Linked DNA regions of Homo sapiens: region 1 is linked to region 2. The links come from fine-mapping of genetic effects on plasma protein levels. A gene starts in region 2. The other region holds a variant in brackets. All regions are shown on one strand. Distances are from middle to middle. Region 1 overlaps STX16 (syntaxin 16). Region 2 holds the start of STX16 (syntaxin 16).

Evidence for each region. PIP is the posterior inclusion probability: the model's chance that the variant is causal. The UK Biobank Pharma Proteomics Project read protein levels with antibody pairs (Olink). The fine-mapping took linkage between variants from a reference panel, not from the people measured, so its PIPs are less certain.
Region 1: its variant is fine-mapped to the plasma level of the STX16 protein (UK Biobank, PIP 0.94).

Annotation. Positions count from the first base shown.
Region 1 is chr20:58,659,825-58,665,350 of GRCh38, forward strand. All of the region lies in intron 2 of STX16 (syntaxin 16), which reads left to right. The region is part of intron 2 of STX16-NPEPL1 (STX16-NPEPL1 readthrough (NMD candidate)); the gene reads left to right. Among named protein-coding and RNA genes, the nearest start is that of STX16, 11 kb to the left of the region's middle. RefSeq lists an enhancer at 1,443-1,942. The variant G/A (reference allele first, on the strand shown) is at 2,790.
Region 2 is chr20:58,649,502-58,654,499 of GRCh38, forward strand. STX16 (syntaxin 16) reads left to right here and starts at 1,782. Exons shown (of 9, transcript NM_001001433.3): 1 at 1,782-2,637. The coding sequence starts at 2,506. It overlaps STX16-NPEPL1 (STX16-NPEPL1 readthrough (NMD candidate)), which reads left to right and starts at 1,752. Exons shown (of 23, transcript NR_037945.1): 1 at 1,752-2,637. It overlaps LOC107985410 (a long non-coding RNA gene), which reads right to left and starts at 134. Exons shown (of 3, transcript XR_005647058.2): 1 at 1-134. RefSeq lists a silencer at 685-1,044 and enhancers at 2,541-2,810, 2,648-3,151.

The DNA of each region.
Region 1 (5,526 bases), 11 kb after region 2:
TGATTTAAAAAAGGCTTTGGGAAGATCGTTTACTAGTCTTGGGAAAGTGTCTTAACTTTGGAAGCAGTAAAGGTTGAACACTTTCTTCAAGGAAGCCAGAATGTTTTGAGAATTAATGTCTGTAGCTTCCTGATTTCTGAGAAGTGAGTCGTGCACTTCCTCAGGTAGACAGTATAGAAGGCCAGCATGTCTGTGAAGGCCCTAAATGAGAAGGACTGTAGCCACGGCAACTGTGGGAGGGTCTTCCTTGTCACTCCTGTCTGGAATGAGATGACACCCAGTGGATGCACCTGGAGCTATTGTCACCTGGGCCCAGTTCTGCATCTCCTAGCTGGGGGTGCCTTTGGCCTTTTTATTAGCTACTAGCATCTTGCCCAGAAGGTGGAGAGAATATATATTCAAAGCACTTTATTTTAGTAGCCGGAGTAAAAGGGTTGAGAAAAAATGAGATTAAAACTGTTGTTAATGTTTGTGTCTATTGTCTGTTTCAGCATTGAAGGGGTAAGAATATTTTTCCTGAGTATAGACCTTTTAAGTAGAGTGATGGAGAGGTGAGGGTTGTTCTTGTTTGTTTTCATTTAGAAGTATGAATAGTAAAGTAGGATTAGGAGGATCACTGTCCTTAAAACCAGTGGGGTCCTAACTAGTAGATTCAGATCTACCTATATATTCTAAAAACCTTAACTAGTTGATAATGACAACAGACTGAGCACAGCCTAAATAGCCTTCATTGGGAACTGGTTAAATATATTGTGTAGCATCTCTGACCCTCTGTAACAGGTAAATAGTGAGGCCCATCCATGAGAGCTGCAGTGGAATAAGCCCCAGACACATGGCGGAGTGGAAAGACCCAGATGCAGAGCAGCATGGATAATATGATTCCTGCTCCTTTTTTTTTTTTTTTTTTTTTTTTTTCAGGAAAAATAACTCATATTTATGCTTGTGTGTGCTTAAAAAATTCCTGAAAAGATACACAAGAAACTGTTAACAGTGGATACACCCCAAGAAACATCTGGGATAGAAAACTTCCTTTCTATTGCAAACCCTTTTCTTAGGGTGGATATATATTTTTAAACCATGTGCATGTATACTTTGCCACTAAAAACAATTAGTTAAAAAAAAAAAACACCACTCAACGGGTAGCTGACTGAGCCAGGTGTCATGGTCATGCCTGTGTGGGGGTTTCCTTTCCCATTCAGGAACCTCACTGCCAGCTCCCCGCCTGGGCACGGGGCCCTGGAGAGGGCTTGGGGGCTTGGAGAGCAGGCGTTCTGAGTTAAAATAGATGTTGCTACTGGCTGAACAGTTTGAAGATATGGAGCTTATGACCTCAAAAGGAAGTGTATAGGATGCGAGGGAGGGTAACAAATTATGGAACCACTTAGGTTGAAGAACCATTTGAATAATGTTCCAAGGAGGGGCACATAAGTGGTCATAATTACTTCGGGGTCTGCTGTCTGAACCGATTTCCAGTCTTTCCTACTTCCTTTTTCAGGCAGCAAGTTCCAGAAACTGGCTACTCACTGCATGAACTTGGCAGGCCCTTTTGCTTTTCTTATGTTTCACCTCTAAGGGCTTAAAAGGGAGTCTTCACGCTCTGTGATCAGAGGCCCTGCGTAGAGAGCACTATCTCCTCCACGCTCACCCCAGTGCTATTAGAAATGCAGGTTGCTGCCTCATCGTGGGTGCCCACGGCCACCTCATTTCCTTGTGCGTTTCACTTGCCTCTTTTGCTCTTTTGTGCAGTGCCGTTATCTTTTTCATGAAGTGTGGCTTCCACAATTGTCTGTGACGTACATTTTATTTACCTCGTGCATTCATTCCACTCGTTTCTTGTCGGATCACTCAGCTGGTTGTGATTGTGCGTTCAGGACTCTGAAGTGCCAGGTACTGGCCTAGGAGCAGGGGGTGTGGTTGGGGACAGTGTCCAGAGGCTTCTTTGAAGCTGACGCAGGGCCTCACATTGGCATCTCTGGAAATAGTGAACACCCAGCTCCAGAGTGGATTAGATGTTAGCCACCCCTTTATAGGGGAGGCCTGAGCAAATGTCCCTGAGTGAATATCACTTGCATCTCCCAGAGTAAAGGCATCTGACGGCCTCACTTCAGAGGCTTCCTGCAGTCTGTCCATGTTTGATTGTCATTCTCCTCCTCTAGCCTGAGTACCCTGGAGATGTCACTTTTCCTTCTCAGAAAACACTAAGTAAGGTGTTCCCTGAGGAGGACCCGAGCCCACCATTGGTTCTCTTACCCAGGGAAGTGTCTGGCCCTCTCCTTTGTTCTCTGTCTTTAATCTACTTCCTGTCTTATGACAAAGAAATCTCTGGGAGTTTTTAAACTCAAGAATTATTTTAAAAGTCACAAGATAACAAATGTCAAGCCCCCAAACCACACTGCCTGGAGGACTGCACATCTGGGAGTGCCTGGGCCGGGCCCCAGTGTCCATGTTGGTGAAATAGGGAGCGGCGCTCCTCTGAAGGATTGTTCTTGGGACTGGCATGGGCCAGGTCAGTAGCAGTGCTCAGTACAGTGCTCACAGAAGGCAGGGAGGGACGGATTGCTCCCCTCCTTTTTCTTCCCCTCAGAGTATGTATGTTAGTTGAGAAAAAAGGAAAATCAGTGAAACTTAACAACAGTATCAGGGTGATGTGATTCTCAAGTGTTTTTATCTCTATATTTTTTGTATCATTTATTTTTATTTTTTTGAGACAGAGTCTCACTCTGTTGCCCAGGCTAGAGTGCAGTGGCGCGATCTCGGCTCACTGCAACCTCTGCCTCCCCAGTTCAAGC[G/A]ATTCTCCTGCCTCAGCCTCCTGAGTAGCTGGGACTACAGGTGCGTGCCACCATGCGTGGCTATTTTATTTATTTATTTATTTTTGTATTTTTTAGTAGAGACGGAGTTTTGACATGTTGCTCAGGCTGGTCTCGAACTCCTGAGCTCAAGTGATCCGCCTGCCTTGGCCTCCCAAGTGCTAGGATTACAGGCGTGAGCCACTGCGTCATCCTATGCCATTTTAAAAGTATTTATTTTGACCATTTACTAATTTCATAATTAGAAAAGGTAAGCATTATTTTAAAATTATTACGGGTTTAGAAAAATGTAGTGCTGACATCACTTTTTTCTTTTATCCACATGCTTATTCACTTCTCCAACAACTCGGATTTCTTAAGCCTAATTGTCTATTAGCGAAGTAGTCTGACTTCATCATACAGGCTCCCAGAGTTTCACGTGGAAGTGTGAGTTGCCAGTCTGTTGATTTTCAGTGTCCCTTCTGGGCTTTCCAAGTGTTCATTGCCATAGACAGTCCAGAATTATCGGTATTGTTCTCATTACCAATGCGTTACGGCTAAACTTAGTTGATTTTTTTAGATGGGGAGGAGGTGTAGCTGACTTTTCCAATCTCCACAGAGGCTTTGCTATTTCTGTAATCTTAGTCTACACTAAATCAGCCTTCAGGGAAAGGCAGGGTTTTTAAGAGTAGGAGGGCCATAGATTTGGAACAGCAAGATTTATAAGAGAGAATGTGTATGTTCTTTCCATAGATGGAGAACTTGTCCATACTGGCTGGTACTCTTTAAATGGACAAATGTCAACATTTGAAGTGGATCAAAGGCAAAAGATACCTTTAGTGAGACTGGCAGGAAAGCCATTGGGTGTGCTGTTTTGAACATCTGTTGGATTTTTTCTGCATTTCTCTCAGGAAGGATGGCTCTAGGTTAGGGTAGCGGACCCCAGTAGTTCTTGGAGAGAGGAACTACATATCAAAGAGGCAAGAATTCTTAATTCTCTTAAGTACAATTTTTATTTAAAAAATATGGATTTTTTTTTTTTTACTTCAGAAGCACAAATTTATTTATTTATTTATGTATTGAGATGGAGTCTCGCTCTGTCTTAATAAAAGGCTGGAGCACATTGGCACGATCTTGGCTCACTGCAACTTCTGCCTTCCGGGTTCAAGTGATTCTCCTGCCTCAGCTTCCCGAGTAGCTGGGATTACAGGTGCATGCCACCATGCCCGGCTAATTTTTGTATTTTCAGTAGAGACGGGGTTTCACCGTGCTGGCTAGGCTGGTCTTGAACTCCCGACCTCAGGCAATCCGCCTGCCTCAGCCTCCCAAAGTGCTGGGATTACCGGCGTGAGCCACCATGGCCAGCTGCACAAACCAACATCATATATTTGGAGGGGGCACCATGTTGAAATTCAGTAAGGGTAAGGAGAGAGAATTAGAAACCTGGCCATTTTTTAAGATCTGTATGAAATAGGATGGCAGCTTGAAAATTGATACATATGCTGGATCTTCAACAATAAGAAGACATGTTTTTAAATGGAAAGTGAGGTTTCTGAAATTAAAAGGGTGCTTATGTTGCACATAAAATTTGTTTATGTCCATATTTGTTCCCATTTCAAATAGTTGACGCTTATCTTCAACAATTGTTTTCCCTTCCCAAAACATACTGTCTTGTTTTTTAATAGTACATACTGTGATACACATTACAAATCCATACTGCTAAAAGAAATGACACATTTCTTCTCAATAGGGTGGTGTTTCTTTATTATAATGAACTATAGCTATAGACTGTATCATAAAAGAGACAAATTATTCGCTATTTAAAGTTTTCATTCCCAAAGAATCAGCTGTTCTATCTTACTGGCAAAACTCTGATACAATGTGTGGGAAAGCTAGTACCAGCTGAGCAGGCTGGCATCCATGCTGTTCATGTAGGAATCTCTAATTAGCAAGCTTCCTTAGGACCCTTAACAAAGAGTGTGTTCTCCCCACTTTTGATTTACATCTAATTTGAGGGGAACACATGCATAAAATCAAGTACTGCTTCAAAGAGTTGTATTCACTTCAACCGACTTTTCATATGTGGTTTATAATTTGTTGTTTTGGATAAAATGATACTAATCCCAATGCAGGTAAATTTAGATAGATACCATCTCTCTGTCTTCTTTAGTTTAATGTGTATTTGTAAACAGTAAAAACAGTACAAAATAAGATCATGAGCTTAAAAACTCTAAAATCACTATAAATAATTACTGATTGAAATGTGTAATAATAAAATATAGTGGATTCGATAATAAACTGGTGTAGTGGAAATTCTAGGACCCATGAAGAGGTCCTTTAGCAATTTTAGATTTTACTTTGTATAAACAGCTGGAGTTCAAGTTCTGTTCCAGTCCAGCAATACTGTAGACAGCACCTGATGTATGGCTGGCAGGTGCTGCGAGCTGGGCCTGTGGTTTGTCCCCCTGCTTTTTAGTCAGTGTGTCCTCCACAGAGTTGTGTACCTCTTGGTGACTTTGGAGCAGGAGTGTTGAGGAATAAACAAGTCTGCCTCTGAGTGCTTGGCACAGGCCCTCTCTGTGCCTGCTCTGTAGAGGGTGAGGTCTGCGCCTCTCTGTCCACGGATGGTCAGTAAGAGAGGATGATCTTTACTGACACTAACGTCACTCACTGGCGGCCTGTCCTATAGTGCCTGGTGTAGTTGGTGGGAAATGAATCAAACTACTGTGTTTTGTTGTTT
Region 2 (4,998 bases):
AGTGTGGGGACAAACTCTCCCTTATTGGGCAAATATTTCCCGGGGCGCTACGCTAAGCACACGGGCTCCCCGAATTTCCCTCCCCAGGGCCTCTCTGTCTTTGGATGGCCTGTCAGCAAGTCCCTGCAGCCTCCAGCCCGGCCCGCGCGGCGACCCAGTCCCCTGTCGCCCGAATCTTCCACCGCTGCGAAGCGTCCCCGGGCGAGCGCCCTGCTCTCCGCGCTGCGCGGAAGCCAGAGCCGGTCCTCACAGTGAACTCGCCCAGCCCTGCTCGCGGCTCTCTCGATTTTATGTGGGTTTCGTTGGATGCATTTTGTTATTTGCCTCAATGGATGTTTCACATTAATTTTTAGTTGCACAACGAACGCGCGGGAACATTCTCCGTGAGAGAAAAAGCACGGGTGGGGGGCGGTTACCGGTGCTTCCCCCGGTCGCCTGGGGGTCCCGCACGCGCCCCGCGGGTGCCGCTGTCTGGCTGGGGTCCCTGGGTGAGCCGCGGGCACCGGCTTCGCGTCTCCCCGGGCGCGACTCCGCTTTGCAAGCGCTCAGCACACGGGAAACCCTCGGAAAACACACACGTGTGTAAAGTTTGTTCCACGCAGAAACAAAGGACGCGTGGGGGCCGCTTCTGGGGCCTCGGTCCTTTGTTGGAACCCCGCACCGCAGCCCGGCCCGCAGCCTCGCCCCGCAAGGGGAAGCCGGCCCTGCACAGGCCCGGGGCCCGGAAGGCGCCGCCGCACAGCTCTGCGCCCCCGACCCGCTCCGGCCGCGCGCTGGGCCAGGCCCTTGGCCTCAAGCCTCCCGGGCGGCTCCGGGCCGGACCCGGGTCTCCGTCGCGGGACGCCAGCCTGTTTGTGGGTGCCGTGCTCGGGCCCGGGCGGCCCCTGCCCGACGCGGCCCCACGGAGCCCCTGCACGAACCCCGCCGACCTGGCCCGGGGCGGCAAGTCGAGGTGCTTAGGGCGCCCTGGGCCCGGCCAACCGTGGAAAACCCGGCCCGGGGCACGGGGGGGCGCGGGGGTCGCAGGGCCAGGGCCCAGGCAGGGAACAGAGATTTTTTTCGCGGGGAGGGGGGTGGGAGGTGTCAAAGTTTTCGGGGAACTTTTCCACTTGAGATTCCACGACCCTGCAGTGCCCCCTACAGAAAGCGGCAGCTGGGGAGGGCGGGCGCCCCCGACGACCCCCGACTGCCAGCGGCGGCGCGGCCAGGCTGCCTGGAGTTCTTGTTCCTTTTTTTTTTTTTTTTTTCCTTTTATTTCCTCGTGGTTGTTTGTCGGATACATCTTTTTCCAGAGTGGGAAAAAAAAAAAAAAAAGCGAGCGCCGCCGCCTGCAGTAGAGCGTGCTCGGCCTGCAGAGGCAGTCGTCTCCAACTTTTCCTCTCCCGCTCCAACTCCCCGCGCCCAAAACTTCAGTTCTTGGGGAGCCCAAATTTGCCTGCCGCGCAACTTCCACTCTAATTCAGCGACCAAGGGCCCTGGCAGCGGTTTGCAGCCTGGGGGCCACGCTCCCCAGGCTCAGGCCTGCTCGTTGGCCTGCTCCTAGTGCCTGGACCCAGTTGGGGGAGGCGAAACAGGGCGCCCGAGGAGCACCCCGGGAGAGGGCGGAGCACTCCCGTGCCCCGGGGCAGGAGTGCAGGGAGCTCCCGCGCCCGGAACGTTGCGAGCAAGGCTTGCGAGCGTCGCAGGGGGGCACTCGCGAGGGACGGACAGGAAGAGGGCCAGGGGGGAACGCCAGAACCCGGGACCACAGCACGGAAACGGTCCGGGGCTGAGCTGCAGTCAGATCCGGGGATGGAGGGAGCCGGAGAAGAGGAGTGAGAAGGCCGGGGAGGCAGGCCCTGCTGTCTTCCTGCAGGCCGGCAGCCTGCTGGCAGTGGAGGACCAGGCCGTCCAGGAAAGGAAGGGGTCAGGAGGTCGGGCAGGGCCTCAGCAGGTTCAGACAAGTCCCCAGAAGGGAGCTGCAGGCGCCCTCGAGTCCAGGCCCCAAGCCTGGCTCCGGTTGTCCAAAGAGGGCCTAGGCCAGGCCTCTGGTGCGGAAACTGAGTCACAGCCAGACCTCAGGGCACGGCCTAGACGCTTACGAGCCAAAGTTAGGGGTAGAGAGCAGAGACCTCCGGGGGGTCTCAGGGAGTAGGGGGCTTCAGGGCCTCCCAGTCTAGAGCCGGATTGGCGAGTTAGACGCTTGTAGATCCAAGGTTGGATTGGGGTGGGGTCTCTGGGACGTTGGATCGCTACGCAAGGATTGGGGGGATTCAAGTGCTTAGAGATCGAAGTCTGCCCTGGGTAGGGGGAGTCAGACAATTGGAAAGCCTAGGTAGTTATTTGGGGAGGGGTCTCTACGCCTTGGCGAAGCGCACAGCTGCATCTTTTTGGCTTGAGGCCTGAGGCCTTGTCGAGAAGCTTCCGTGAAAGGGTGGGCCAGCCGGGCCACGAGAAAGAAAGTGAATAAATCAGGAATATAAGTGGGCGGGGGGCCCCTGAGAGGGGGGTCGCAAAGGGTGAGACATGGCCACCAGGCGTTTAACCGACGCTTTCTTGTTGTTGCGGAATAATTCCATCCAAAACCGGCAGCTGTTAGCCGAGCAAGTGAGTAGTCACATCACCTCCAGCCCTCTGCATTCACGTAGCATTGCTGCGGTGAGTCTCCTGGCGGCCTCTCCGACACACGGACCGTGTGCACTGCGGCTCTGCCTGTTTGTCTGTCTCTGTCTGTCTCTCTGTTTAAAAAGAGAAGATAAGAATAATAAGACTAAGAATAATAAGATCTCTTGGCTAGAGTCAGGGGGCATCTGTAGCCCTGGATGAGGAAGAAGCGGTGCTGTGAGGCCGCAGCTCCACCTCTGCCCGGTCTTCTCCTCACTTCCGCAGCACCCCCCCCCCCGCACCCCCCGCCTTGGCGTCACTGCGCTACAGGCCGCCTGTAATTTACATATGTTTTAACGCTAACATTGGGAAGCATTGGGCCTTTCTGAAGCCTTTTTGTTTCGTTTTGTTTGAAGCTCCCCTCCCCCCAGTAATGAGCCTCAGTTTGGTCCTAAGGGCTGGGTCGCCGGATCGTAGACCCAAATCCTTGCAAAATGAACGACTCCCTCCCCTCAAAGAGGAGGGAGTTGTGTTGTTGTTTTGTTTTGTTTTGTTTTTCCGCCCGTTTTCTTTTAACGGCCCCGCAGCCCTCTGTGTGGCCTTGTTCCCTGTGAATAATTGCCTCACTGTTCTTCCTGGGGGCTTGCGTTTGTGAGACTCAAGGTGCTAGCCTCTTCACTTTCCATTTCCCAGACAGGAAATTAAGCTTTCCTCTCCATTCGAACTTTTTAAAAAAAGCCTGAGGAGGTATATGTGAAAATTAACCCCGTAAAATAGCACTTTTTTTTTTTAATTAACCACAACCTTTAGTTAGCCTAGCAGTAGCGTTTTTTAAGGGTGGTCCTGGAAAAATTACTGTTTGGGGTTTGTTTTTAATGGGGGCTACTTTTCCCTTTCTGAGCCTCAGTTTACTGCTCTGTTAAATAAGGGGCGAGTCTGGATGATCTATACCAGACAGTGATCGTTAGCTCTGTAATGTCTTCAATTGAAAAGTGAAGTTATGAAACTGGCTGTAGTTCAGGCTACCTGCTGTAGGCAGACTAGGTTGGAATAGAAGCAGCGTTGGAACAGGCGGGAAATAGCCATCCCAGGACCACATTCTTGGGGGTTATACTTGATATTAGGCAATTTTGGAACATTCATTTCACCTCTTAGGGACTGTATTGCCAGTTTATTTTTTTCTTTATGGCTTTATCTAAATGCTTCAGGAAAATTTTGCCATATGTCATGATTATCATGTCTACAAAGACAGTTTCTCCTTTTTGTAAGTCACAGGTGGAGAATGTCTTTGGCCATATAACTGATAGAAAAGTCATTTTAAGCCGTGTGAGCGGTTTCAGGAATAAAAGCATGTAAACTCAGGTCAAACAGCCTAGAACTAGGGACAGAGTGTGTGTGAGATTTCAGTTAATTAAGAAGTTGAAGGGTTTTTTTTACATTTATAAACGGAAAGGAATTACATTATATTGAAATAAATGTAAAGATGTCTGGTAGCATAGAAACAGGCTAATTCTAGCGCTAATTTTGAAGAAGAAATAATCCAAGAAATCGAGTAGAAATTGGATGAATTCAATTCCTTAATGGAACTTCAGTAATGTTAAATAAGAACTGCATGTTCCTTAAATGACTTGATTTTGTGCTGCCTCAAAAACTACTGAAACTCATATTAAGATTTCTAAGGTATCAGTTTTAATTGAAAAACATATTGTTTATTTTTCAATTTTTAATCATTAAGGTTCAAAATACCCTGAACCTTTGGGTAACATGAGGGTTTTTTTTTTTTTCCCGATTAAGTCAGACAGTTTAAAAACCTAGTATCTGAGACGGGAAGCTTTTTAAAAGTGCATCTCTGAATCAGACCACTTTAGAAAATTATTTTCTAAGTTAGGCAATTTTAAAAAATATTTAAGCTAAGCAGAATAATTAAAAATGGATAGTTAACGTATACAGTTTGGAAAAATAGATATGTCAGGGTATATACAGATACATTTAGCTAACTCACAGTTTTTTGAAAATAGATTTCTAAACCCAACTAAAAATACATTTCTAAGAACGTTAAAAAATGTTTTCTAAATGTCATACCATTGAAAATGTTAATATTTATATTAGTCTGACCATTTAAAATCTTTCTCAGATCATTGAAAGCAGTCATATCATTTAAAATATCCTTATAGTCAATCCATACTATCTCAAAAATAGGTTTTGCAGTCTAACAAACATAGTTTGCCTGAATTCAAATTTAAAAATAAAACACAGATTTATATATTTTAATTGTGTTAAAAAATGGCATGTCATAAATTTCTGAAGTATTTAGGGTTGAAGTGTTACATCTTCACTTTGCTTACAGGTGATTCGTAACAAAATCTATTCTGCACACAGTACGGCGAAATGCTAACAAGACTAAATAGAGGTTAT